Homo sapiens: one gene and its partners. The protein of the gene in region 1 purifies or fractionates together with the protein of each later gene. This does not show direct contact. Each region holds a gene or a part of one and is shown in the gene's direction. Other genes may lie near its edges. The genes, in order: CCDC33, CENPF and UBASH3B.

What was found.
Region 2: the proteins of CCDC33 (region 1) and CENPF purify together in Homo sapiens (affinity purification with mass spectrometry; 2 studies listed by BioGRID and IntAct, with this or other methods). This does not show direct contact.
Region 3: the proteins of CCDC33 (region 1) and UBASH3B purify together in Homo sapiens (affinity purification with mass spectrometry; 2 studies listed by BioGRID and IntAct, with this or other methods). This does not show direct contact.

The regions. Positions count from the first base shown.
Region 1 is NC_000015.10:74,267,262-74,274,368, forward strand, and holds part of CCDC33 (coiled-coil domain-containing protein 33), read left to right. Parts: intron 1-1,080; coding exon 1,081-1,197; intron 1,198-4,441; coding exon 4,442-4,533; intron 4,534-5,509; coding exon 5,510-5,630; intron 5,631-7,107.
Region 2 is NC_000001.11:214,606,096-214,613,202, forward strand, and holds part of CENPF (centromere protein F), read left to right. Parts: intron 1-2,218; exon of another isoform or gene 2,219-3,108; intron 3,109-3,924; exon of another isoform or gene 3,925-7,107. UniProt on the Homo sapiens protein: Required for kinetochore function and chromosome segregation in mitosis. Required for kinetochore localization of dynein, LIS1, NDE1 and NDEL1.
Region 3 is NC_000011.10:122,791,716-122,798,822, forward strand, and holds part of UBASH3B (ubiquitin-associated and SH3 domain-containing protein B), read left to right. Parts: intron 1-2,986; coding exon 2,987-3,119; intron 3,120-4,440; coding exon 4,441-4,561; intron 4,562-5,195; coding exon 5,196-5,318; intron 5,319-7,107. UniProt on the Homo sapiens protein: Interferes with CBL-mediated down-regulation and degradation of receptor-type tyrosine kinases. Promotes accumulation of activated target receptors, such as T-cell receptors and EGFR, on the cell surface.

The DNA.
Region 1 (7,107 bases):
GAGTTGAGGGTGAGCCCAAGTCATGCTGTCTCCCAAGCCAGTTCCTTCTGAGCTGCCTCCACATGCTGCCTTGGCCAGAAGGCCCAGGAGAGTTGGGGGGTACATGGAATAAAGCATTCCCTGGAATGCACCCCTGGAGTGAGCAACTGGGTCCAAGCCATGGACTGAGGGGCCTGAGGCTCCTCACTCCAAGGTTGGGCCTCCCAGGCCAGACCCCTGCCTGTCCTCCCTCCTAGTGCTGAAGGGTAAGGGGTAGAATTCACTCTCTCATTGCTCAAGGACTTATGAAGCACCTACTATGTGCCAGGTAGTGAGCCAGAGATGAACAGAAGCATCACATTCCCCTCCCCACTGTGCATTCCAGACCCTGAAAGTGGTTGAGAGTAAAGAACAATGTGAAGCCAGACTGTCGGGGGTCCTAGACCAAGTTTGTTGCCTCCTAGCTGGATACCCATGGAAGCCACTTGGTCCCCAGGCCTCCATCCTCACTGGCAAAGCTGGCACAGTCGTTTTGAGGATCTCAAGCAATGATAGGCAAGGTTCCTGGCATACAGTAGGTGCTCAGTTTGGTCAGTTACCCTCCCCCATCCCTCCTCCGGGCCAGCACTGAACTTTCTTCTAAGCATTTCTTCAATCATGGCACCAGGGGGCTTTACCTTCTCTTAGGCCCCATGAGGAACCCCAATCCCAGGGCTTCAGGATGGGCCATGCAGGGAAGTAAAAGAGAGATGTGCTACTCACCCTGGGAGACTCAGCACTTGAGCTGTAATTCTGGGGGCATCACCCAGGCCCCCTGGCTGTCTGTTCACTTACAACCCAGGCCTTGTTATCACATCTTTACTGGAAAGCAGACAGGCAGTGGTCCTTGTGAGGGTGATGAAATATTCAAATGGAAAAGGGAAGATTTATTATATTGATCTCCTTGGAAGGGCTCACAGGGACCATGAGCTTTAATTATCAGCTCGGAGCCCCAGCGGAGCAATGCCAAGTGATTGTCTGCAGAGGGCTGGATTTATGGCCAGGATCTGCCCCTTAGACACTCTCCTTCCTCTGTGTCTTCTGCCCCAACCCTGTCTCCAGCCCACTGAGTCTGGGAAAGCCGATGAAGCCACTGCCAAGACCCAGTTGTACGCAACAGTCGTTCGGAAGAGCAGCTTCATACCCCGCTACATCGGCTGCAACCACATGGCTCTGGAGGTACCAGGGCTGGGGCCCTCTGGGGTGGTGGTGGGGGTGGGAAAGGGCCAAGCTTTGAGCAGGCCCCACGCCTTGCCCTTAGCCCCCTCTGGCTGACCTGAGGGTGTGGAGCAGAGATGTCAAGAATGGAAAAAGCAACCAGGCCTTTCCAAAATAGCAAAAGGAGTTGTGAAGACAAGCCCTTTGGCAGGGATGACAAGGATGAAGATGCTCAAGCCTCTTCTCCTTCCCTCTCTGTCTTGGAGGTGGCGGGGAGGGGCTCAGCCACACTGCTGCTCCTGGTGTACCGTCTCTGTGCTGCAGTGGGGACCAGAGCCTGTCTCCCCGAATCTTATGCTAGGGGCAGGGGAGAAGCCCCGTGCTCCCCCTGAGCCCACAGCCCAGCAGTTTCCTGCTCTATTCTTCCCCTCCTGGGATAGTGCCTTGGCCCCCAAGCAAAAGTTTAGGGCCTCCTTGAGCTTTCCTTCAGCACTGTGTCTAAAGAGGTTTGACTGGTCTGGCGATTAGGTATTTAGTTTATTCATTCATTTATTCATCCAGCAACTGTTTACAGAGCCTCTTCCATTAGCCAGGACAGGGCTGAGCCCACCTTGGGCCTGGCCACTGCCCCTTGACCCATCACCATCCACCCCCTAGGCCAATTAGCAGCTTTGGGAGGAACTCTTGATGCTCAAAGCAGACATGATGCAGGGACCTGGCCCCTCTCCCATTCCCCCCAACTTTCAAACTGCCCATGGGTGACAGATTCAAATTCAGCTATGGCCTGAGTATGATCAGGGTGGGAGCCACAGGACCCAAGCTCTGAGCTTCCACCTACCCAAACATGGCTGATCTGTTCCTATCCTTCCCACCCCCCTACTTCCCACCAGCACCGTGGGCCTGGCAGGGAAGGAAGCATTCTTTTGCCTTCTTTCACAGCCAGGGACACTGAGACCCAAGGGGAGTATGGTATGGGAGCCAAAACTCCTAACCCACATTTCTACTCCCCTACAGCCACCCCTCTGATGCCAGCATATCAGACCTACAGGCGCCCTCTGCTCCCCGCCACCTTCTATCACGCCCTTTCCTGAGGACAGCCAGCAATTCACACACACACAGAACAAGGAAGAGGGGCAACAGCCTGGCCTTGCTGTCCCCAGGCCGCACCCCACAGGGAGGAGGCCACATCCCCAAGACACAGGCAGAACTTTAGGGCTGCTGTGGAGCTGCCCCACCCCACCCAGCCCTCTGACTTGCCTGGTAGAGCGGTAGAGTAGGGGCCTTCTCTGGCTCACAGCACCCTGCCCACTCTCCTGCCCCAGCACAGATGCCCTCTCCATCCGTGCGACAGGTATGGCCACAGAGCAGCTGCCTGCTCCTGATGGTGAGCGCATGGCAGGAGCAGGAACTTCTGCTACTTCCCAGGCTGTCATGAGCAGGTGTACTTGGGCAGCTGTCTCATTCACACCTGATCAGAGTCCACACAGAACAGGTGCAAATTAGCTGCCACCACCCCCTTTTTAGTCTTACACCTGCTGGGGAGCCTGTGAGCAATAGGGCCTGCCAGCCTCCAGTGAAATCCCTCAGCCCCAGACCCCAGACCCATCCAAAGTGTGAAATGTACCATCAGAGATTCAATCCTTTGAATGTGATGAAGGGATTCAGTCTCCAGAGCCCTCAGTGAGAGCTGCGAGGCCCTAAGGACTATTGTACGTGCCCATCAGCTCACACCTGTGTGGGGTTAGAGGTGGGAAAACCAGCTGAGATGGGTATTGAAAGAGGAGCCTGAAAGGAGGGTGCGGAGGGAGAAAAGGGAGAATGATCCAGAACAAGCCTCACTCCTGGGCCCTCGCCAGCCACAATGGGTTGGTGGGAGCTGCAGGGAGTCTGAGTAGAGGGATCAGCATGTGCAAAGACCCTGTGGCAGAAATAAGAGGGGTAAGTGGCAGGAGTAAAAGAGTCTGGAGCAAGAAGACAGGGGCTGGGGGCCTGTCGGGAGACACGGCAGAGGGGCTTGTGGGGTGTCGGGCAGGGAATAACGTGACCCAGTTCATTTTTAACAAGAGCACTTTTGCCATCATGTGTCAAATTGCCTGGGAAAGAGGATGGATTAGGGAAAGGAACAGAAGTGGAGAGGCTAGTGAGGAGGCAGAGGAATCGAAGGAGCAAGAGGAATGAGAGCCGAGTGGGAGGTGGGTGAGGGCTGAGGGAGAGTGGGAGCCATTGGTGGATACAGGGTGAGGGTCAGGGTCCGGGAGATCAGGGCCTCTTAGGCTGGCAGCAGAGGCGCATGGGGACAGACTCCCTGTCTCCCCTGTCTGCCTTCCAGTGTCCCCCAGGCCCAGACTGAGCAGGGGGTCAGTGAGGGTTGGAGCAAGGTGACGCTGTCCACTCCTGCTTTGTAACCTCCTGCTGGGACCCCGCTCGGCTCTCTGAAAGCTGCGCCAATAGAAGCCTGGAGTAGAGGAGAGGGCAGTCAGGACTGGGAGGCAGGGAAGCCTTTAGGGGGTGACAGAGGACTGAGGAGGGAACAACCAAGGGCGGTCAGGGGAGTGACAACCGGGATCTGATGAAGAAAGAGGAGCCCAGAGATGCGGATGCTATGATCCTGTTCCAAACCAGTACTTCCTGGGGAAACCAGCAAGGCAGGAGAGCAGGCACCAGGGTGAGCAGTGGAGCAGGCACCAGGGTGATGGGCACGAGGGAGGCAAGGGGAGCCTGGCTGTGGCCGCTGATCTCAGGAAGTTCAGCATGGTCGGAGAAACCAGACCTGGGCTTCCTGTCTTCAGTTTATAAAGTGCTCTCTCACAAACGATCTAATCAGAGACCCCTCACAGCCCTGGGAGGAGCCTCATTTGACTGACAGAAACCAAGGAGCTGGAACACCTAGCCCTACCCCTAGCCCAACCCCTCCCCAGGAGCCAGTGGAGGGGCCGAGGTTAGAACACAACCTCCCTTCCCAGGACCCAACTCTCATCGTACCCTTTCTCCCCAAAGAAACTAGTGTAAGAGATCCATTGGTAAATCCCAGGACAGAAAGCGGGAGCAGTTGCCTCAGCTCGGCAGAGAAGGCTTCCTGAGGGAGGGCAGCCTGGTGCAAAGCAAGAACCGAGTAAGGCAGGGAACAGGGAGAAGCAGGTGTCAAGTGTGGAGGCAGCCATGAGCTCACGGATGGGGAAAAAGAGGGTAGGCAGTCTGGCTGGCTGTCTCTGGAAGGTCCCAAGGCCACATGGTGTTCACCTGCCTCCTCTCCTCTCCTCTCCAGATCTTTCTCCGGGGAGTCAACGAGCCCCTGGCCAACAACCCCAACCCCATAGTGGTGATTGCCCGGGTCGTTCCCAACTACAAGGAATTTAAGTGAGTGGGGCCCAGGTGGACCTGGGTGAGGAGGGCAGAGCAGAGGGCAGAGGAGGGGGTGAGGCTGTCATTGCTGCCATGGGCTGATTCCAGGACCTCCGGCAACCCCTCTACCCCTAAGGCCCTTCAAGCCTCTCCATTGGGTCTGAGGTCCCAGTAAGCTTCCTGCAGCAGACCATGCCTTTCTTTCCCCAGGGAGAGCCCAGGCCCCTGGAAAGGGGCAGCTCAGTCCTCTCCTGAGAGCAAGCTGGAGGGCAGGTGGTGGGGATGAGTGCCGATACCAGGCCTAACAGCTAGAGAGTGTGGGGAGGACAACAAGAGGGGTCCTCATTCCCTGCTCAGGGAACCTCAGCCCCTCCAACCTGCCTCCCTGCCTCACACCCACCACCTCCCCACTCCCCCTCCCACTCTAGCTCAGGGCCACAGGCTCCAGCCAGTGGTTGGCCCCAAAGGCCATCTTGGAACTTCACAGCCTTTAGCCCTGCCGGGCGGAGTCTCCTCCCTCCTCATCCTGGAGGTCTCCCTGGTCCCAGCCACAACTCATCCCCTCCTCCCCTAGACCTCCTTTTGAGTCTGTTGGAGTCACAGTCCTCAAGAGGAGATTCATACTTTGCCACACAGTGGGAAATTCCCCTATGAACGTGTGCTCTCTGCCACAGCACCGACTCCTGGGAGTCAGGGTCTGTCTTGGTCACTTCCAACTGGCCCTGATGGCCCAAGATGACTCCCCTACTTCTCTGTATCTCCTGTTGAGTTTTTATGACTTATGAAGCCCCCTTGCTTGTTGGAGGAAGGAAGATGATTGATGCACGCCCAGCCCAGTGGTCCCCACTTGTCGTGAGGTCCAGGCCCGAACTCGGCGGGATCCCTGCAACTCCCTTCTCTTGCATCAACCCAGAGTCTAAGCGGGGGGCCCTGGGCTGCCAGGCTCAGGTGCAGAGCCCAGAGCACTGACCCTGTCTCCCTGCCTCCCCAGGGTCAGCCAGGCTAACAGGGACCTGGCCTCTGTGGGGCTGCCCATCACCCCACTGTCCTTCCCTATCCCGTCCATGATGAACTTTGACGTGCCTCGCGTCAGCCAGAACGGATGCCCTCAGGTATGTCTCCTCCCCAGTGGTTCCAGCTTCCTGTAACTACCCCACACATTCACTGTTCACTCACTCAGTGAGTCAGTCAGCAGTTCCCTTGACTATCGAGTAAGAGTTGACTGAATCCCACGGCATACCCAGTGCTGTGCTCGCCTGTGCGGCAGAGAAACTGCCCTCCAGGAACTCTTGGTCTGGTGAAGATGGGAGTCACGTGGGTGAAAAAGTTGAACATCAACACAAGATAATGTATAATCTAATAACAAACTGGGAGGGCCTGTCAGGGCTATCACATCAGAGGAGAAGATACAAAAGGACAAATATATGATTCCACTTATATGGGATACCTAGAATAGGAAAATTCAGAGTCAGAATGTAGAACAGTGGCTACAGGGGCTGGGGAAAGGGAAGAATGGGGAGTTACAGGTCATAAGTACCTAGTTTCCGTTTCAAGTGATGAAAAGTCCTGGAAATAGATAGTGGTGATGGTTACACAACAATACGAACAAATGAATGCATTTAACATTACCGAACTGTACATTAAAAATGGCTACAATGGTGAATGTTGTGTTACGTATATTTTAACCCAGTAAAAAAATTTTTTTTGAGACAGAGCCTCGCTCTTGTCTCCCAGGCTGGAGTGCAGTGGCGCAGTCTTGGCTCACTGCAACCTCTGCCTCCCGGGTTCAAGCAATTCTCCTGCCTCAGCCTCTCGAGTAGCTGGGCTTATAGGCACATGCCACCATGCCTGGCTAATTTTTATCCTTTTAGTAGAGACAGGGTTTCACCATGTCGGCCAGGCTGGTCTCGAACTCCTGACCTCAGGTGATCCACCCGCTTTGGCCTCCCAAAAGGCTGGGATTACAGGCATGAGTCACTGCGCCCAGCGAAAAATTTTTTTTAATCAGAGGAGAGGGATGTAAAGCCTGGATTAGGGAAGGCAGTCTTGAATTTTTTTTTTTTTTTTTGAGACAGAGTCTTGCTCTTGTTGCCCAGGCTGGAGTGCAGTGGCACCATCTTGGCTCACTAGCAACCTCCGCCTCCCAGGTTCAAGCAATTCTCCTGCCTCAGCCTCCCAGGTAGCTGGGATTACTGGCACCCGCCACCATGCCCGGCTAATTTTTGTATTTTCAGTAGAGATGGAGTTTCACCATGTTGGCCAGGCTGGTCTCAAACTCCTGACCTTGTGACCTGTCCACCTCGGCCTCCCAAAGTGCTGGAATTACAGGCATGAGCCACTGCACTCAGCCGGCAGTCTTGAATTTTTAACAGAGGAAGGGTTGGTACAGGTTGGACACAGCAATAGCACAAGTGTGAGGTGGAGACAGGCAGGCTATGACCCATGTCAGGGCAGACAGGAGGGCTGTGTGTTTGAGTATGAGGTTGGGGGCGGGTGCACGCACAGAACATGGCTGGGTTCAGGGGAATAGCCAGATTGGTCTCTTCTCATGATCTGCGCTTCACTGCCAGCTTGCCCTACACGATGGTC
Region 2 (7,107 bases), on another chromosome or scaffold:
AGGGTCAGCCGCGGCCTCCGACGCGCGCGCACCCTTCCCGCCAGCGGGCGTCCCCGGGCCCAGCTCCGGATGCGACCCTCCAGTCTCCCCACTCAGCCAAGTCAGTGGGTCAGGCCCAGGCTCCACACCAGTCCCGAGGGCCACCCCCAGCCCTCAACACCGCGGCGGTGGGCGAAGCCAGCGGCCCCACCCCGTTCCCTGGCGCTGCCGTTCCCTGGCGTTTCCTAGCTAGGATCTGTAGGGATCCCGCCTACGGAGTGGCCCTGGGGCGGAGGTAGGGGAGGCCCTGGCGCCTCTCCTCCTGATCACCCCTAGGTGCACACTGGGAACTGTGTGCCCCCCACATCCTGAATGCTTCACGCCTTCCTGCCCGGGTTAGAAAGCCGTTCCTGGTGCACTGGCCAGGACAGCGGACACTCTTCCTCCCTGCAGCCCTTGCCCACCCCCTTGGCCATGAGGAATTCAGGCAGCTGTGTCCCCAAATGTCTCCACCCAATTTTGGACTCTCGGAGTCCCCACGCCCAATGAGATGCCAGTGCAACCCAGGTCAGCATCGAGGGTCGTGGCTGCGGAGGTGGCACCCCCTCCCACCAGCACCTTCCCTTGGGAGTGGACAAGTCCTCGGCCACCTCAGCATCACCAGCTCCCACCCAGGGCCACCCCCACCCCCAGGTCACTGGTGTGCAGCCCGTGACCCAGCTGATCCAGCACCAGTTACAAGGCCTCCTCGTGCCCAGTCCCAACCACGCGGGACCCACCTGCCACCCTGCCCATGCCGGGACCCCACAACTCTCCTCCCACACGCTCCAGGCTCTGATCCCAGGCAGATGCCCTCTTGCAAGGCAGGAGCATGGGCAGGTGTGCGTCCCCTCTGCCTGGCATTCGGACTCCACCAGCAGGGCTGTCCCCCTCCCTGGCCTGGAATCCCAGCCTCCTGGCAGCACTCCACAGCTCGCCACTCACCCATGCCCCAAAGGATGCTGCCTGGCTTGTGCCTGTGGCCCCAGCTCTGCCTTAGCCTCCCTGGCCTGCTCCCTGGCAGCCATGGTCAGTAGTGTGCTGAGCCAGCCCAGCCCTGTCACCTGCTACCAGGCAGGAGCCCCCAGCTGCCACCTGGATGTCACCACTCAAACGAACAGGACACATCCCCAGTGGAGGCCCTGGGCATGCTCTGGCCTCCCCCTCACAGCTCTGGGCCTAGGTTCCTGCAGGACAAAGTGGCAGCAGGACAGATGGCCGAGCAGACAGAGCTCAGAGCTGGCCATGGCGGGTGTGACTCTGCCAGTGGCCCAGGCAGTAGAGACAGGAGGGGCCGAGGAAGTCGCATGAAGTGGTTGGTGTCAGCGCCCCACACTGCTGGGAGGCCCCTGGAGCCAGGGTGGTGCCAGGGGACCAGCTCCCAGGCCCACAGCAGGGACTGCCTGCAATATCACCAAGGCAACGAGGACCCCACCTCCCCAGGGCCTCTGACTTCTCAGAGCTATGCCTGGTCCCTGCGGGAGCAGGTCAGACCAGTGGGCTGGGCAGGGCCAGGACGAGACAGCCCCAGTGGATGGCGAGCAGGAAAGGTCACCAGAGGCCCACCCGGGTCTCCTCATCCAAAGCAGCACTGGCCCGGGCGGTGCTCAAACACCAGTGAAGGCCCCAGGCAAGCGCAGGGCTGGGGACCTGGATGACTAGGAGGGCTGGATCTGGAATGGAGGCTGGCCCAGACCTTGGATGTGTGCTGGGGGTCTGCACCTGACCCTGCAGGCCCTGCCCCAGGATGGCCAAGCTCCGCAGCCACAGGGCCTCATGGGCCAGGCCTCGGGACCTGGATGCAGCAGCCTCGCCTCACTTGGCCCCAAGTGCTGCCTCGGCCGATGGGGCCCCAGCCACACGTGCACAGACCCCCAGACACCACCCACTCCCTCCCGCCGGGTGGCATCCACGCCCCTGTGACAAGCTCAGCCCCTTCCCGTCCTCAGGCCAGGGGTTCCCAGGGAGCCTGGCTCCACAGGCCAGGGTGTGGAAGGACCGCCTGGCCACACCTCAGCCATGTGGAGGCTGCACCTGCACACCCAAGCTCGCCTGTCCGGCTCTCTGGCCCTGTGCATCCACTGTGGCTCCCCTCCTGCAGAGCCGCCCACCTTCCTCCCAGGGAAGCCCGCCCCCCGGCCCCCGGCCTGGTCCCCTCTTGGGTGTGCCCAGGCTGAGCTGCCCCCAGGGTTGCCCTCACCTGGTGCGCAGGGCCTGCCAGGCGGCGTCGATGTCGGCATAGAGGTTCCTCTCGGAAGGCCTACCCGAGCTGGCACCGTAGCCGGAGTAGTCGTAGGAGAAGATGTTGCAATGGAGGCGGGAGCCCAGGCCAATGTAGAAGCTGCTCATCTGGCCCAGGTCCACGGCATTGCTGTGCGAGAAGAGGACCGTGTACCTGGCACCAGTCACGCAGCGAACATACATGCAGGAGACGCGGTTGCGGCGGGCGCTCTTGGTGGGGAAGACCTCAATGGTGTCCAGCTCGCGCTGGCTGTACTGGAAGTCGGCGCGCTCCGTCAGGTGCAGCTTCCAGCGCCCGGGTGCGCCCGAGGAGGCCCGCAGGGTCCCCAAGGGGGCGGCCCCGGCCCCACCAGGCCCCGGCTCGGGCTCAGTCACCAAGGAATAGGTGGCCTCCGGCGGCAGGAAGGCGAGCTTGGCAGCGATGCGGCCGGGGCAGGGCGGGCAGCAGAAGAGGCAGCAGAGCTCACTCAGCGACAGCCCGTTCATGGCGGGCGCCGCCCGGGCCAGGCCCCCACCGGGGCCCCAGCCAACAACGCCGCCCGGCCTGGCCCGGCAGGGGAGGGGTGGGGGTGCTCCGAGTCGCGGGCAGGGGGGAGGGCGCCCCCCCAGCTACGGCCCCAGACGGCAGCCCCGTTAGGAGGCCAGGGCCCAGCCCCATCGCGGTCCAAGCCGAGCCCCAGGGAGCCTCGCAACCACAGGTCTCCATGTCACGCCGTGGGAAGCCCACCCCGGCCCGCGCCCCTGGGCCCCAGGGCCGCACTCCATGGCGCCTGGCCGCCTGCCCGTGCGTCCGTCGGTCCCTCCGCGCCCCGGCCGGCCTCCTGCATCGCCACCGCCGCAGCTCCCCCCGAAGAATCCGCTTTGAATCTCTAAGGTTGTACTGTATATGTCTTTCCTGGTCAGTGTCTGTCTGGAGCATGACTTTACCACCTTTTGCAGTGATTCTAGTACTAATACGGCATTCACTCTTCATTCATGCATGCATTCATTATTAAAAAATGATAACTGCTTGGAAGGAGATGGGCTACCTGTGCTGTGAGTAACTATGATGGGAAACTATGGCCGGGTCAGGGATCTCAGAAAAGTTTCCCAGAGGAAGAGGGACAAAGTGTGAGTGGTAATTAACCATGTGAAGAGGGAAAGAGGAGCATATGCAGAATATCTTGTCATGCATTTTCTTTGTTTATAGGACCTATTTCACCTGAAAACCTTATGGCAAAATATTATTTTTTTCTTAGCTTTTATTTTTGGTTCAGGGGTACACATGCAGGTTTGTTTTACAGGTAGACTCATGTCATGGGGGATTGTTGTACAGATTATTTTGTTGCCCAGGTACTAAGCCTAATACTCAATAGTTATTTTTTCTTCTGCTCTTCCTCCTCCAACTCTCCACCCTCAAGGAGGCCTCAGTGTCTGTTGTTCCCTTCTTTGTGTTCATTTGGTTTTCTGTTCTTGCATTAGTTTGCTAAGGATAATGGCCTCTAATTCCATCCATGTTCCTGCAAAAAACCATGATCTCATTCTTTTTTATGGCTGCATAGTATTCCATGGTATATGTGTACTACATTTTGTTTATCCAATCTGTCACTGATGGGCATTTAGATTGATTGCATGTCTTTGCTATTGTGAACAGTGCTGCAATGAACATTTGTGTGTGCATGTGCCTTTTTTTTTTTTTTTTTTGGTAGATAAGGGATTTTGCCATGTTGCCCAGGCTGGTCTCGAACTCCTGAGCTCAAGTTATCCACCTGCCTTGGCCTCCCAAAGTGTTGGGATTACAGGCATGAGCCACTGTGCCTGGCCATGCATGTGTCTTTATGGCTGAATGATTTATATTCCTCTGGGTATATACCCAGGAATGAGATTGCTGGGTTGAATGGTAGTTCTGTTTTTAGCTCTTTGAGGAATTGCCATACTGCTTTCCACAATGGTTGAACTAATTTGCACTCCCACCAAAAGTGTATAAGTGTTCCCTTCTCAACTTGGCCAGCATCTGTTATTTTTTAACTTTTTAATCATAGCCATTCTGACTGGTGTGAGATGGTATTTCATTGTGGTTTTAATTTGCATTTCTCTAATGATAGTGATATTGAGCTTTTTTTCATATGCTTGTTAGCCACATGTATTTTTTTTTTTTTTTTAGAAAAGTGTTCATGTCCTTTGCCTACTTTTTAATGGGGTTGTTGTTTTTCTCTTGTAAATTTAAGTTCCTTATAGATGCTGGATATTAGACCTTTATCAGATGCATAGTTTGTAAATATTTTCTCCCATTCTTTAGGTTGTCTTTTTACTCTGTTGAGTTTCTTTTGCTGTGCAGAAGCTCTTCAGTTTAATTAGATCTCATTTGTCAATTTTTGCTTTTGTTGTGATTGCTCTTAGTGTCTTTGTCATGAAATATTTGCCCATTCCTGTGTCCGGGATGGTATTGCCTAGGTTGTCTTCTGTGGTTTTTATAGTTTGGGGTTTTACATTTAAGTCTTTAATCCATCTTGAATTAATTTTTGTATATGGTGTAAGGAGGGGGTCCAGTTTCATTCTTCTGCATATGGCTAGCCAGCTATCTCATCATTTATTGAATAGGGAATCCTTTCCCCATTGTTTGTTTTTGTCAGCTTTGTCAAAGATCAGATGGTTGTAGGTGTGCGGCTTATTTCTGGGCTCTCTATTATGTTCCATTGGTCTATGTGTCTGATTTTGTACTAGTACCATGCTGTTTTGGTTACTGTAGCCCTGTAGTATAGTTTGAAGTAGGGTAACATGTTGCTGTCAGCTTTGTTCTTTTTGCTTAGGCTTGTCTTGGCTATTTGGGCTTATTTTTGGTTCCATATCAATTTTAAAATAGTTTTTTCTAGTTCTGTGAACAATGTCTTTGGTAGTTTGATAGGAATAGCATTGAATATGCAAATTGCTTTGGGCAGTATGGCCATTTCAATGATACTGATTCTTCATATTCATGAGCATGGGATGTTTTTCCATTTGTGTCACTCTGATTTCTTTGAGCAGTGTTTTCTAATTCTTTTTTTTTTTGAGATGGAGTTTCGCTCTTTGTTGCCCAGGATGGAGTGCAGTGGTGCGATCTCAGCTCACTGCAACCTCTGCCTCCCAAGTTCAAGTGATTCTCCTGTCTCAGCCTCCTGAGTAGCTGGGATTACAGGCGTCTGCCACCACACCCAGCTAATCTTTGTATTTTTAGTAGAGATGGGGTTTCACCATGTTGGCCAGGCTGGTCTTGAACTCCTGACCTCAGGTGATCTGCCCGCCTCAGCCTCCCAAAGTGCTGGGATTACAGGCGTGAGCCACTGAGCCCAGCCTTCTAATTCTTATTGTACAGATCTTTCACCTCCCTGGTTAGCTGTATTTCTAGGTGATTTATTCATATTGTGGCAATCGTGAATGAGATTGCATTTTTGATTTGGATCTTGGCTTGGCTGTTGTCAGTGTATAGGAATGCTAGTGATTTTTGTATATTGATTTTCGTATCCTGAGAGTTGGCTGAAGTTGTTTATCAACTGAAGGAGCTTTTGGGCCAAGACTATGGGGTTTTCTAGATGTAGGATCATGTTGTCTGCAAACAGGGGTAGTTTGACTTCCTCTCTTCCTATTTGGATGCCTTTTATTTCTTCCTCTTGCCTGGTTGCTCTGGCCAGGACTTCCAATAGTATGTTGAATAGGAGTAGTGGAAGAGGGCCTCCTTGCCAGTTTTCAAGGGGGGAATGCTTTCAGCTTTTGCCCATTCAGTATGATGTTGGCTGTGGGTTTGTCATAGATGGCTCTTATTATTTTGAGGTATGTTCCTTCAATACCTAATTTATTGAGAGTTTTTAACGTGAAGGGATGTTGAATTTTTAATGAAAGCTTTTCTGCATGAGATAATCATGTCATTTTTGTCTTTAGTTATGCTTATGTGATGAATCATATTTATTGATTTGCGTATGTTGAACCAACCGTAAATCCTGGCGATGAAGCCTACTTGATTATGGTGGATTAGCTTTTTGATGTGTTGCTGGACTTGGTTTGCAAGTATATTTTTGAGGAATTTTGCATCGTTGATCAAGGATATTGGCTTGAAGTTTTCTTTTTTTGTTGGGTCTCTGCCAGGTTTTGGTATCAGGATGATGCTGGCCTCATAGAATGAGTTGAGGAGGCGTCCCTCCTCCTTAATTTTTTTGGAAACCAGGGGTACAGACAAAGTACCCTGTACACCCAACAGTAATCCCACAGGAGAAGGCAGAGGCCCCAGGCCATTTAATCAGCAGCAAGGTGATTATGTGATATGTCTTTTCACAGTTGAGTTAGATGTACTCCACCAGTTATGATGGGAATCAATTTAAATATACTTTCTTGATCCCAGAAATTCAAGTATGTGGACAGGATGTTACACATGGCAGGATGATTGTTACAGCGCAACTAACATATTTCAAATGGACAAAAAATTAGTATAATTTACAGTATCTTAAGATAAATTTCCTTTGAATGGGAGCTTCCTTTCTAGTCCTTTGAGGTCTACAAGGCATATCTAGAAAATTTACTACTGTGGAAGATGAAGACTGTTTAAATTGAATGGGGGGCAGGAAGGGGAAGGGCCTATGGTTTTTCTTTTTGATTAACTGCTGTAACCCTGTCCTTCAGGCAGCTGAAGGAGTGTCACATTTTCTTTAGACATCATTAGGCACCAAAGCTCTTGTAGGACAACTTTGATGCTACATGAATTCTGCCATTTTGCTAGCACTGATATGGCTTTTTGGTCCACCACTCCATTACAACTATTAACCCTATTTATATTAATTTTTGTTACAAATCTTACAAAGGCAGGGTGCTTCTGGGCATTTAGGATACATTCTATTTTAA
Region 3 (7,107 bases), on another chromosome or scaffold:
CTGGCTGGCATGGTGGGAGTTGCCCAGGGGATCCAGGCAACAAGTCATGACTGGGGGTCAATGATTTTGACAACACTCCCTGCCAAGTGCTTCTCAGTTCTCTGAGTCCCTCCTAAGGAAATATGTTCTCTCCACACTAACTGGAGTGTCTTACTTGGTTCTGAGTTATGAACCAAGACAAGTTGATGAAGCTGGGTGAGCTGCCTGGCCGCTTGGGCTTAGCACAGGCCTGGTGTGTTGCAGGGAGAAGCCAGCTCTCCCGATGCTTGAGATGTTCTGGATGTCAGGCCCGGCTTCCTCCCTCCACTGTTCTGAGCAAGAAGCATCTGACTGTTTTCTTACTGGAACTGGCAGCTCCACGCTGTCTCAGAGTGAGTCAGGTCCTTTGATTATAATGACAGTTAAGAAGGGAAAGAGGCTGGCATTCGTCTTGCCATGGGAGACGAAGGAGGGAGAGAAGGGATCCTATCAGTATCTTCACAGCTGCGATAAAGAAACAAACAGATATGTACAAGAACGATTCTAGGTAGCCAGACATTTTGCACCCTGAAGCTTTGATGAGTCAGACAATAAAACTGGATTTTCTTTTTTTTTTTCTTTTTTTTTTTTTTAATTTTTTCTGAGATGGAGTCTCACTCTGTTGCCCAGGCTGGAGCACAGTGGTGCAATGTTAGCTCACTGTAACCTCTGCCTTCTGGGTTCCAGTGATTCTCCTGCCTCAGCCCCCCGAGTAGCCAGGACTACAGGTGTGTGCCACCACGCCCAGCTAATTTTTGTATTTTGAATAGAGACGGGGTTTCACCACGTTGGCCAGGCTGGTCTTGAACTCCTAACCCCAGGTGATCTGCCTGCCTCGGCCTCTCAAAGTGCTAGAATTACAGACGTGAGCCGCTGTGCCCAGCCAAACTGGATTTTCTTGAACTGTGTGATGTTTGGGAGGGTCTTAGTTTAAAATAAAGTAGAATAGCTGGTCTATTATACTGTGTGAACGGCACAAGATTTCCTTGGGCTACAGTTACTTAAATTTTACTGTAACAGGTTTCACTTGGCAACATACGCAGATGGACTGATGCTGCTTTGTTGAACTGTAGGTTCCTGGGTCCCACCCCTGACCTACTGAGTCACAATGTGTGAGGAGCAGAACCCCAGCACGAGTGTATTTTTTTTAAGTCTCCTGGTGATTCTGATATGCACAAGGGTTCAAAATCAGTTTTTCAGGGCATGAGACTTCTGAGACTTCGTTTATAAGTAGATAGAATGAGTCTATCACTTCTAGTGAAAAAGGAGCCACTTCTGAAAGTGAAGGAACAAAAATTTACTAACAACCAGTTTGCTGTATTATATTGGTGAATATAAAAAGGTATTTTCAAAAATAAAATTATGGGCCAGGTGCAGTGGCTCACTCCTGTAATCCCAGCATGACTTTGGGAGGCCAAGCAGGCAGATCACCTGAGGTCAGGAGTTTGAGACCAGCCTGGCCAACATGGTGAAACCCCATCTCTACTAAAAATACAAAAATTAGCCGGGCGTGGTGACGCACGCCTGTAATCCCAGCTACTCCAGAGGCTGAGGCAGGAAAATCGCTTGAACCTGCAGGGTGGAGGTTGCAGTGAGCCCAGATCATGTCATTGCCCTTCAGCCTGGGCGACAAGAGCAATACTCCGTCTCTAAAATAAAATAAAATTCTGATAATACAATGTTAAAAGTGAATAATCCAGAACAGGTGGTAGCCTAAACGGGTTGCCTCATCAACAGATGCAAGCCAGGAGTATATGGAGCAAACTGGGATGGATGGCTACCCAAATTGTAAAGAAGCAAGAAATCTATAAAATTTAAATGTTTCCCCTGGACTCTGCTCAGTGATTCCAAAGATGTTCACTGGATTTGCCTAACAACCATATTTACATTGCAATGTTTATTAGATAAAGCTTTGTGGAAGTCTTAACTATTGACAATAATTTAAGCTTGGCAGGTTTTGACTGTCTTCCTTTCAGCAAGACCTCTTTTAGGCTTCTGTAGCTATAGTGTTACACTCAGAAATGACAGTTCTTGGCTCACAGCTCTAAACGTCTGGTGAGAATGGTCTTCTCTGAAATAATTCTATTTGTAATCATCTTGTTGGAGGCGTGATTGAGGGGGAGATAGGGTTTGGAGACCGAAGAGGGTAGAATAGGGGACTTTGGCACAAAGTTTCCTTGACTGTTAGGAGCCACTGGCTGAGGTGGAGATGGTGAAAATACCCCCCATCACTCTTCACTTCAGATGGAAATTACCACGGGAAATATTAAAGGCAACAGGGATCGTAGATTTCTTTTGAACCAGAAAAATAGCTGCAAACAGATCATTGATACGTTGTTATTCTTGAACTTGTCTTTGGTGCCAACCATGCATGGCACAAAATCACTAGGATCCATCCCTGCCCAAAGGAATGAATATATCTGTCCTCAGTGCAGAAATCCATCTACCTCTAATTTATTTATTTACTTATTTTTATTCTTATTTCTTTTTGAGACGGGGTTTCGCCGTATCGCCCGGGCTGGAGTGCAGTGGTGCGATCTTGGCTCACTACAACCTCCACCTCCCAGGTTCAAGAGATTCTCATACCTCAGCCTCCCTAGCAGCTGGGACTACAGGCACGCACAACCACGCCCAGCTGATTTTTTGTATTTTTAGTAGAGATGGGATTTCGCCACATTGGCCAGGCTGGTCTCAAACTCCTGACCTCAGGTGATCCGCCTGCCTCGGCGTCCCAAAGTGCAGGTGTGATCACCACACCCGGCCTACCTCTAATTTATTAACTGCAAGACTTCAGTATAAAACAAGGTATTTTTCCCTTAGGAATGAGGCCACTCCTGCTCAGCATCCCCCATCATTGTGCTACCCACAGAGGGCTTTGAGTTAACTCCCACACTCCTGTTGAGCCCAGGAGGAAGTGCTGATGACTGCTGGCCAGAGCAGTTAACACCTTCCTTATCTTCCTCTGCAGTTCTTATTCAATCTTAAATACATCGTCATCCAACTCTCTCACGTTTGGGGATGGAGTATTGGAGAGGCGGCCTTATGAGGACCAGGGGCTCGGGGAGACGACTCCTCTTACTATCATCTGCCAGCCCATGCAGGTAAGGCTGATTGCTAGGGTCACACCCCCAACTCTAACCAGGATTCACTGAGAACCTATTTATTAAGCATGAGGCCTTGCCCTTGCTGTCTCCAAAGCTTCCACGATCTCTTGGGAAGAAAGTACACCAAATTATAAAAGATATACAAAAATTCAAGGCTAGGAAGAGTCAGATGAGCAGTACTGACAGTTACTTCCAGCATTTGAACCTAGGTTCATAAGGAACGTTGTTCCACAGAGATAGGAGGAGAGTTTATCTCTAAAGTAGGAATAATGCCCATAGTTGTATCTGTTTTGTAGGTTGTTACAAAGATTAAAGAAAATAATAAAATTAGGCTCTTAGCACCATAACTGGCATATAATGAGTGCTCAGTATGTGTTAACTTTTTCAAGGAAGGTTGGAGATGGAAGGAGGCAGGGAGTCGTTGTTGAACAGTACAAATAGAGGCAAGCTGAAAGTTCAAGCATGTTGAGGATCAAGAGAGTAACCATTGTGGCTGGAGCCCAGGATTTAAATTAAGGAACAACAGGAAAAGAGATGGGAAGGATCATGCCACCGTTCCACATATTAACCACGTCAGGGCAACTAGAAGCAAATGTGAAGTGCTGGCCCGCGCTAAGGAAACTGGAAAAGCTGACTGCATCAGAAAGACGGAATGCAGAAACAGCTGTAAGGTTCCATCCAGCAGTTATAGAAGCCAAAGTCATTTGGACAAGCCTTTGACTAGATTTGCCTATGTCATCACCCAGAGGTAGCAGTTGTCTCATTTTGGGGATCATATATATAGTCAGACAGCAGAGGCTACATAGTGATTAGAATAGGAAAACAGGGTCTCATTACTGGAGCAGACCATGAGGACCATGTGGTCTGTCCACACACTTTAGAGAAGAGGTAGACACATTTGTGATCACAGAAGTCCTCACTCCCTGAAGAAGTTGATGAATTGCCCCTTTTTGGGGGGAAGGTGCCCCACTAGATGGCTCTCTCTACATGAATGGCTAGTTTTACCTCTGAGCTGTAACTTAAAGTGGACGTCATATTTTAGTGGCCACTTTAATGGCCAAATGCTACTCCTACAAAGAGCAGCCGTAGCAACAATAATGCCCTTTTCATAACCCTTCCTATTTTATAAAGCACATGCAGTTTATCTTATTCCAGCCTCCAAATAACTTATGAGGTCTGTAGGACGAGTCTTACTGTCCTCACCAAGTCATACCTTGGCAGAACTTTGGTAGTAGAGCTCAGCTCACCTGGCACCTGGCTCCAAGACATGTCCACTTTGCCATGTGTGTCTTCACTAATAGCCTTTCTTTCTCTGCAGCCGCTGAGGGTCAACAGCCAGCCCGGCCCCCAGAAGCGATGCCTTTTTGTGTGTCGGCATGGTGAGAGGATGGATGTTGTGTTTGGGAAGTACTGGCTGTCCCAGTGCTTCGATGCCAAAGGTGAGTTGGTGGTGGGCCTGCTCAGCACTGCCATACCCATAGTGGCCTCTAGGCGGCACAGTCAAGCTACAGTTATCTAGATGGAGTCATTCATAGTTTTGCGTACTATAGAAGATGTCTGTCATGTGTAAGCCCCTCCTGATTGTCTTGAGCTTTAGAGAAGAAGTAAGTGTTCTTGTCCCCATTCTATAAACTGGGATACCACGGACCAAAGAAGACAGATGTCTTGCCCCAGGTCATATGGCAAAGTCAGCAGCAGAAACGTGCCCTGATCCTATGGCCAGAGTTCCTGCCATTAAATCTCCCTGGCTCGCTCGGTTCCATTTTCATTTGAGTAGCATTTGAAGATACAGAGGCTTGCTTAACCAGGGAATCTCACCTGCTTTAAAGTGCCTGGTTATTACCTTCACTGAGAAACTACCTCATGTCACTTTTGTCAGTAGAATGGAAAAGTGGATTCCAAGTCACTTTATGAAACAAAATGTCAGCCTTGATATTTTCTATCAGCTCCAGAGAGCTCAGTGTGATCTCTTTGGCCAAGAAGGAATGGGGGTGGAGAGTGTCAGGATCAGTAAGGGAGTCCCAAGTAAACAAGAAATGTATGTATCCTCTGTCTAACCTCTTTGTTTTTCAGGCCGCTACATACGCACCAACCTGAACATGCCTCATAGTTTACCTCAGCGGAGTGGTGGTTTCCGAGATTACGAGAAAGATGCTCCCATCACTGTGTTTGGATGCATGCAAGCAAGACTAGTGGGTAAGTATCCTGGAGTGACTGCACTCCAGGCATTTCTTGCCTCCTCCTTCAAAACACTGGTACCATGGATATGCAAGACACTTCCTGTGGGTTTCTATAACTTTCCTACAAGTTTCCTCAATTCAAAAGGAACTTACTACACAACCATTAAGTTTAGGACACTGTGCTCAGCCCTGGGTTGGTTGACCAAAGTGAATGAGGTGTGGTCCTTATTGAGGAGCACGTGATCCAGTAATGGCGTGGGTTACTGTGCTCACTCTTGGATGTAGCAGACAGGTCAGCTTCTAGTTCAAGACAGCAGCATCTGCCAAACATGGCTGTGGAAGAGGACAAGAGTGAAGAAGATGGACCCTGGACTTGCTGAATTTGTAAAGGCCAACTGATCCTTTGAAGATGCCTAGCTCTTTGCAAGCCCATTCCATTACTGGCACGGGGAGATAGTATTTTCTGTTCAGTCACTTAGCAGATATTTAGTGCTCACTTACTTTGTGCAAGGTATTGGACTAGGGGAACCCAAGTGTGAGTCAGGGAAACAAACTTATGTGTGGATAAATATCATACAATATGATATACATAGAGCTATGCACTAATGTGTATGTATTGATTGCATGCATCCAGACATAGTGATATGCATAGAGCTATGCATGGTCACAGAATATTATGGGAACACAAAAAGACATCTAAGAGTGAAGAGGTGAGCTGAGAGCTGAAGTAGAAGTTAGCTGGGCAAAGAAGGAATAGGAGTGAGGAAATGGCATTCTCAGTGGGAGGGACCACATAAAGAGTCTTAGGCTTGAGAAACAGCCTCAGGAATGCAGGGGAAACAAAGTGTCTTGTGTCTAGAGTATAAATTGTGAGGCAAGGCAGAGATGAGGCTAGCAAGATGGATAAAGGCAAGTTCATGGAAGACCTTGGCCACCATATTAAGGTGTTTGGATTTAATCCAGTAGACAAAATAACTGGATTCCAGGCCAGGCGTGATGGCTCTCACCTATAATCTAGCACTTTGAGAGGCTGAGGCAAGAGGATTGCTTGAGACCTGGAGTTCGAGGCTGCACTGAGGTATGATCACACCCCTGCACTCCAGCCTGAGTGACAGAGCAAAACCCTATCTCTAAAAATTAAATTAAGAATAATAATAAATTTTTTAAAGAAGTGGATTTTATGAGGATAGCATTAAAGTATGAGGTGTTGGGATTTATCTCTGGTATCTAAAAATATGACATGTTGAGATTTTGGTTAGCACAGAATAAAATTAAAACAAGACCTAATATTCATAAAATAAATCCTCTTTCACAAACTTGAAGCCAAAGTATTGTCCTGTTTCTAAATATCTCCTAGCTAAAGCCTTTACCACTTGTTAGCACCAGAGGGAAGGGAAAGAAAAGACAAGAAGGGGCCAGGTGTGGTGGCTCACGCCTGTAATCCCAGCACTTTGGGAGGCTGAGGTAGGCGGATCACGAGGTCAAGAGATCGAGACCATTCTGGCCAACATGTTGAAACCCCATCTCTACTAAAAGTACAAAAATTAGCTGGGTGTGGTGGTGCGCGCCTGTACTCCCAGCTACTCGGGAGGCTGAGGCAGGAGAATGGCTTGAACCCGGGAGGCAGAGGTTGCAGTGAGCCGAGATCACACCACTGCACTCCAGCCTGGCGACAGAGCGAGACTCCATCTCAAAAAAAAAAAAAAAAGACAAGACAAGAAGGGCTCTGTCGCTTGCTCTCATAGGAACGCCGATGAGGGGTTTTGTTAGAAACTAACAAAGGCTGAAACTACTGGCTCTATGTG